Linked DNA regions of Homo sapiens. The protein of the gene in region 1 interacts with the protein of each later gene in a pairwise test. Each region holds a gene or a part of one and is shown on either strand. Other genes may lie near its edges. The genes, in order: GINS2 and DCLRE1B.

Region 1 (3,500 bases):
TGAAAAGACCCTGAGTGATTTTTTTTTTTTCTTTTTATGGAGATGGGGTCTCAGCCGTGAGTGATTTTGACTGCCCCCTCCTTACTGGGACTTATTGGGGGTACCTACCTCCTAGAAGCAAGAGCTCATTGAGCCAGCCACTCTGGGGTCCGTTTAAGACAGACTGCTTAGTGTCTTCCCCTTGCTCCCTGTCCTAAAGTGGCAAGTGACTCAGGTAGTCCTGAAACATAATGGGAAACCCCAGTTCCTCTGCTTTGAGACGGTTTTTTTTTTTTTTTTTTTTTGAGAAAGGGTCTTGCTCTGTCACCCAGGCTGGGCTATAGTGATGCAATCATAGCTCACTGCAGCCTTGACTTCCCAGCCTCAAGTCATCCTCCTGCTTCAGCTTCCGGAGTAGCTGAGACTACAGGTGTGCACCATCATGCCTGACTAATTTTTTGATTTTTTTTTTTTAGTGGAGATGGGGGTCTTGCTATGTTGCCCAGGCTGGTGTCAAACTTCTGGGCTCCAGTGATCCTCTCAGAGTGCTGGGATTACAGATGTGAGCTGTTGCCCCTGGCCGGAAGGCTTTTGTAGAGGAGAGGCTCACCAGGCCTGGCTCCATTAATGCAGCATCCTCTCCAGGCCCCTTGTTTAAAATCAGTGTCTGGCACTTTTGTCCCATCTAGACCCCAGGTGATAACATGGCAAGGGCCTGTTTTATCGCAGGCTAGAGTCAGAAGGTGTGGAGAGTTCCCCTTGAACTTTTTACCTGGGCTGGAGCCATATTGTGGGAACAGTGAGGCACCATTAACCTGTCTATAGACCCTACCCAACAGCCTGCTGCCTCCTGACTTCTGCACCACAGATAAGTTCTGCCTGTTCTGGGCCAGGCGCGGTGGCTCATGCCTGTAATCCCAGCACTTTGGGAGGCCGAGATGGGTGGATCACCTGAGGTCAGGAGTTCAAGACCAGCCTGGCCAACATGGTGAAACCCTGTCTCTACTAAAAAATACAAAAATTAGCTGGGTGTTTGGTGGGCGCCTGTAATCCCAGCTACTTGGGAGGCTGAGGCAGGGAGAATTGCTTGAATCCAGGAGGTGGAAGTTGCAGTGAGCTGAGATCGCGCCACTGTACTCCAGCCTGGGAGATACAGCGAGACTCCATCTCAGGAAAACAAATCCAGTTCTGCCTGTTCTGGGACTTCATGTAAATGGAATAATCTAGTATGTCATTTTTTGTTTCTGATTTCTCTTATCCAACACTGTTTTTGAGATTTACCTGTTTACGTTCTCAACACCGGGACACAGAGCTCAGCTCCCAACCCCTTTCTCCACTACTGAAACTCATATTCACACCACCTGGCTATGTTCTTTCATTGCTGGGTACTCTCCATACTACATATTTGTTCACCGATTCTTCTGTTGGTAGATATTTGGGATTCCCCTTTTTGGCTTTAACAAAAAATTTAGAGACAGGGATTTCTCTGTTGCCCAGGCTGAATTGCAGTGGTTATTCAAAGGTGTGATCATAGTGAATTGCAGCCTCCAACTCCTGGGCTCGAGTGATCCTCCCATCTCAGCCTCCCTAGTAGCTGGGACTACAGGTGTGCATCAATGTGCCCAGCTCATTTTTGGCTTTTGAGACAGTCTCTCGCTCTGATGTCCAGGCTGGAGTGCAGTGGCGTGATCATGGCTCACTGCAACCTCCACCTCCTGGGCTCAAGCGATCCTCCCACTTCTGCTTCTTGAGTAACTGGGAATACAGGTGTATACCATCACATTCAGCTAATTTTTATAGAGACAGGGTTTCACTTTGTTGCTCAGACTGGTTTTGAACTCCGGGGCTTCCACCTCGGTCTCCCAAAGTGCTGGGATTACAAGTGTGAGCCACTGTGCCTGGCTCATTTTTGGCTATTCTTAATAAGGCTTTTGTGAATATTCTTGTCCACGTCTTTTCATGGATATGTTTCTTTTTCCCTTGGGTAAATAAATACCTAGAATGATGGACTTGCTGGATCTCAGGGATAATGCTTAACTTTGTAAGAAACGGCCACCTGGTCCTTCAAAGCAGCTGAGCCTTTATCCTACAAGAAATATGAGTTCCCATTGTTCCATGTCCTGGCCAAAAATTTTGACTGTAGCTTTTTTATTTGCTAGAAAGTTGGACCAGAGGTGTTTCATAAGCTGATTCAGATGTTAATGAAAGGATCACTCTGCTGTGTAGAGAAGGTTGGTGCAATAGGAGCAGGGAATGAATCCAGGCAAGCACTGAGAGTGGCCTCTGGCTGATGGAGGTGGGAGATGTGGTAGGTGTCTAGGTGTGTTTTGAAGGAAGCAGCAGCAGGATTGGCTGAAGGACTGGCCATGGGGTGTGAGGGAGAAGAGTGAAAGCTGACAGCCAGGCTCTTGGCTGGAGGCCCAGGAGAGGGAGTTGCTGTCTCCTGAGGTGGGAGGCTGCAGGAGCAGGCTGTGGGCTGCAGTGGGTATCAGGAGTTGGGGGTTTGAACTGTTGTGCTTTCTGGATATCCAGGAGGAAGTTACAGCAGCAATGAGGTTATTGAGTTAGGAGTTAGAGCTCAGGGGCTGATGGGGGTATAAATTTGGAGGTCTTTCTGAGCATGTGGGTAGCATTTGGACGAGGTGGTGTGGATATGAGTTTAGGTAGTGAAGAAAGGGGTTGGGAGCTGAGCTCTTTGTCCCAGTGTCGAGAGGTCAGGAGGAATTGCCAGGAGACAAAAAGGGGAGCCTAGTGAGTTCATAAGCAAGCTCAGAGGGGTGTTCACGGAGGGCCTTCTTTTTAAGGCTATATCTATTAGTGTGTTTGGGAGGATCAAGCAAGGAGGGGACAGTGATCATTTAAGAGCATGAGAGCTGCTGGAGTGCCTTACTGTGCAGGTGAGAGGAGGGTCCAGGACACCTGGAAGGCTGGTCCTCGAGTGGGTAGGAGCTACACAGGGAGTTTGGGGGATGGGGTGGTGTGTGGGTCACACTCAGCTGGGTGTCAGGTGAGAGGTGGGTGGTGGGTTGAGGCGGTGCTGGCGGCAGTGAAGAGAGGGTGAGTAGACCAAGGAATTGGGCCAGGATTGCAGGACGGCACCAAGGGCCCTGGGGATGGGTAGTTGGCCGTTTACAATGGGACCCTGCAGCGTAGCTGTGCTCCGTGCTTGTCCCTTAGCTATAGTACACAGTCTGCTCCCAGGACAGGTTTCTCTGTAGAGGGGGAGGGCTGAGGGAGCTGGAGCATGTGTGAGAACAGTGCTGATGCTGGTGGAATTGGATACAGCTGTTTGATTCTAGACGCTGGGCTTTCACCCCTCTAGGATGTCATGCCTCCTCCCGGCTGGGGTGGCTTAGCCCTCTAGGATATTGTATCGTGCCCAGGCTGGGGTGGCTTAACCCCTAGGATATTGTATCGCGCCCAGGCCAGGGTGGCTTAACCCCCCTAGGATATTGTATCACGCCCAGGCTGGGGTGGCTTAGCCCCTAGGATATTGTATCACGCCCAGGCTGGGGTGGCTT
Region 2 (3,654 bases), on another chromosome or scaffold:
TTGTGAAGAGTAATTGAAAAATAGGAGTAGGATGGAGACATTACAACAAAGAAACCATGCAGCTATACTGCCTAGTTCAGTGCCAGGCTACATAATAGTTTTTTCACAGACTAGTAAGCAAACGCCTGTCTATTGTTGGAGGTAGGAGAGGCTTGTCTTCTATTCTTTTGTCTCTGACCTTCTGCCCCCATGTACATATTCCTCCAGGTGATTTTCGATACACACCATCCATGCTAAAGGAGCCAGCCCTGACACTGGGGAAACAGATCCATACTTTATACCTAGACAACACCAATTGCAATCCAGCCCTGGTTCTTCCTTCCCGACAAGAAGCTGCCCACCAGATTGTCCAGCTCATTCGAAAACACCCACAACATAACATAAAGATTGGTGAGTTGTTTCCTTTCAGTTTCCTGTCACCTGTAGATAGTGAACTAGATTCTTTAAGGATTCTCACATCTTTCAGATCTTTGTGCAGTTCTCACTTTCTCCTACACTGACCACCTTATTTAAAATTGCAACCTGGCTAGGTGTGGTGGTTCATGCCTATAATCCCAGCACTTTGGGAGGCCAAGATGGGAGGGTCATTTGAGCCCAGGCGTTTGAGACCAGCTTGGGCAACATGGCAAGACCCTGTCTCTACAAAAAATTTAAAAATCAGTTGGGCACGATGGTGCGTGCCTGTGGTCCCAGCTACACAGGGGACTGAGACAGGAGGATTGCCTGGGTCCAGTAGGAGGTCAAGGTTGCAGTGAGCCATGTAAGTGCCATTGCACTCCAGCCTGGATGACAGAGCAAGACCCTGTCTCAATAAATGAATGAATGAATGAAATAAGTAAAACTGCAACCTGCCCACCATCCCCATTCCCAACTCCTGATCATCCATACCAATTCATTTTTTTCATTTTTTTATAGCACTCATATACTATATATATTTTTAAATATGCTATTGCTTACTTGTTGTCTATCATGCACTTCCTCTGGCCCATGCACATACGCGTGCACACACACACACACACAAGCATAAACTCCTTAAGAGCATCACTGGAAATGGGAAGAGACTTTGTGTGTTTGTGGAACAGAGAAGCAGCAGTCAGTATGACAGGCACACAGTGGGCAAGGAGGCTGAAAAGGCAAGAGGGGCTGAAGTGCTGTTAAGCCATTTTGGACTTGATCCTAAACCCAACCAAGAGCTATTGAAGGATTTTAAGTAGAAGAGGGACAATATGCACTCATCACCTTGCAATATATTCTATAATTTATGTATTTATTGGACTTTTTATTGTCTGATTCCCCCTGCTAGAATGTGAATTCCACTATGGCAGTCTCTGTTTTATTATGGGTGTATCACAAATGCCTACACTAATGCCTGACACAGAAGCATTCAATATGAATGAATGAAATTTATCAGAACATAGATATTTAAGTGAGCGTTGTGCTTTAAATTAAGTATACTGAAAAAACAGGTTTGTGCTTGTTGTACTGATTATAAATAGTATAAAACATTGTTGAGGACTCTTTCTTGGAGTTGCCATTTGGAATAGTTTATGAAAATACATTTTTGTTTTATAAAATAAATAAATGTAATAGATTTGGTTCTAAATTACTTTTTTGGTTGTTTCCAAATTTGTGAGTCTACAAAAGGACAAAGACTTGCCACCATTATAAATATTTGAAAAGGACATGTCTCAACTCTGAAAGGAGTTTCAAAATGAGACTAAACAAAGGCATTGAAAAAATTATATAACTTCCAGGGTGACTACCAAATCGATTGAGAAATATCCTCTACTCTCAGGATTGCTTAGCTACTTATAAAGACCTAACCATTCTTAATATTTTAATGCAGAATTTTCTCAAAAAAGCAAAGCTGGCTAGGAGGATGCTATAGTAAGCCTTAATTAATTTTGCAAATATGTAATAAGCCTCTACCCACTAAGTACCAAGTATCCAATAGGCAGTGGGGATATAAAGATGAATAAAATATAGTCTCTGACTTGGAGGGCTCACAGTCTGGTAGGGAAGGACCTGTGGGGAGGTGGAAGTGGGAATATATATAGAGAGAAGAAAAATCCGCTCCATTTGTGCCCAAGGAGTGAGATTTTGAACCATAATCAGGAATAAAGTGGATATAAATAATATATACTTCTTTTTATGGCGTTCACAATCTGGTTGTGGATTTGAAACTTCTTCAGAAAAAGTCTGAGAACAGCTATTAAACAACATCTCCCATATCTGTTACCATAACCATTTCCCAAATTAATGTCTCCATTTCTTTCTCTGTAAGTACTATTTGGGCCCTTCAATTGAAACTTCCACTCCAGCTTCTTCTCATCCTGGCAGTCAAATAATATTATTACCATATTTTTCTTTTTAAAGCCCTGCTCTGAGCATATTATTCTTATGATTAGAATTAGCCATTTTCCTGCTTCACACTCAGTGGCTCCCCTTCACTTACACAATGAAGTCCAAGCTTCTTAGCGGTACATATAAGACGCTCTATTATATGGCCCTTGCTTGCCTCTCTGGTATCATTTCTTATCAATTCCTTTTTTACTTTAGTAACAGCAAACTGACCCCTCTTAAAATGTTTTCCACTATACCCTTTCTACCCTTTCCTTGCCAGGTTAACCTTGCCCATCCTTTAAGATTTAGCCTAACGTTCCCTAACTCCATCACCTGTTAGATACAATACTGTATACTTTTTTTGTTTTTTTTTAAGAGACAGGGTCTCACTCTGTTGCCCAGGCTGGAGGGTAGTGGCATGATCACAGCTCACTGCAGCCTGGACCTCCCGGACTCAAGTGATCCTCCCGCGTCAGCTTCCTGTGTACCAGGAACTATAGGCGTGCACCAACATGCTTATTTGTTTATTTTTGTAGAGACAGGGTCTTGCCAGGTTGCCCAGGTTGGTCTTGAACTCCTGGGCTCAAGCAATCCTCCTGCCTCAGCCTCCTAAAATTGTAGGCTTACAGGTGTGAGCCACAGTGCCCGGCCTGTACACATATCTTTAACGTTGCTCTTAATTGTGGTTTTTCTGGGTCTCCTTGTAGATAGTACTTCTTGAGGACTGACAGTTTTCTTTATTAGTTTTCATGGTGCCTGAAACTTGCTAGATGCTCTCTTTTGTTGAACTAAATGAATGAGTGGATTCTGTGTCATTCCCTTTCATATGTCTTAGCTCAAATGCCACCTCTTCCTTGATATTCTCCCTGGATTTCTCCATGAATTGTATCTATTTTTGTTAAACATTTTGTTGATTTATTAGGATTTTCCAATAGCTTAATTTTCTTCCTTCTCTTACTTTCCCCAATACATTGAACATTATTTAGGACTCTACAGCCTGGGAAAGGAATCACTGCTGGAGCAGCTGGCCCTGGAGTTTCAGACCTGGGTGGTATTGAGTCCTCGGCGCCTGGAGTTGGTACAGCTACTGGGCCTGGCAGATGTGTTCACAGTGGAGGAGAAGGCTGGCCGCATCCATGCAGTAGACCATATGGAGATCTGCCATTCCAACATGCTGCGTTGGAACCAGACCCACCCTACGATTGCTATCCTTCCCACAAGCCGAAAAATCCACAGCTCCCACCCTGATATCCACGTCATCCCTTACTCTGACCATTCCTCTTACTCCGAGCTTCGTGCCTTTGTCGCAGC

Evidence for each region.
Region 2: the proteins of GINS2 (region 1) and DCLRE1B interact in a two-hybrid assay, tested with the Homo sapiens proteins (one study listed by BioGRID).

What each region holds. Positions count from the first base shown.
Region 1 is NC_000016.10:85,682,455-85,685,954, reverse strand, and holds part of GINS2 (DNA replication complex GINS protein PSF2), read left to right. Parts: intron 1-3,500. UniProt on the Homo sapiens protein: Required for correct functioning of the GINS complex, a complex that plays an essential role in the initiation of DNA replication, and progression of DNA replication forks.
Region 2 is NC_000001.11:113,907,802-113,911,455, forward strand, and holds part of DCLRE1B (5' exonuclease Apollo), read left to right. Parts: intron 1-207; coding exon 208-390; intron 391-3,329; coding exon 3,330-3,654.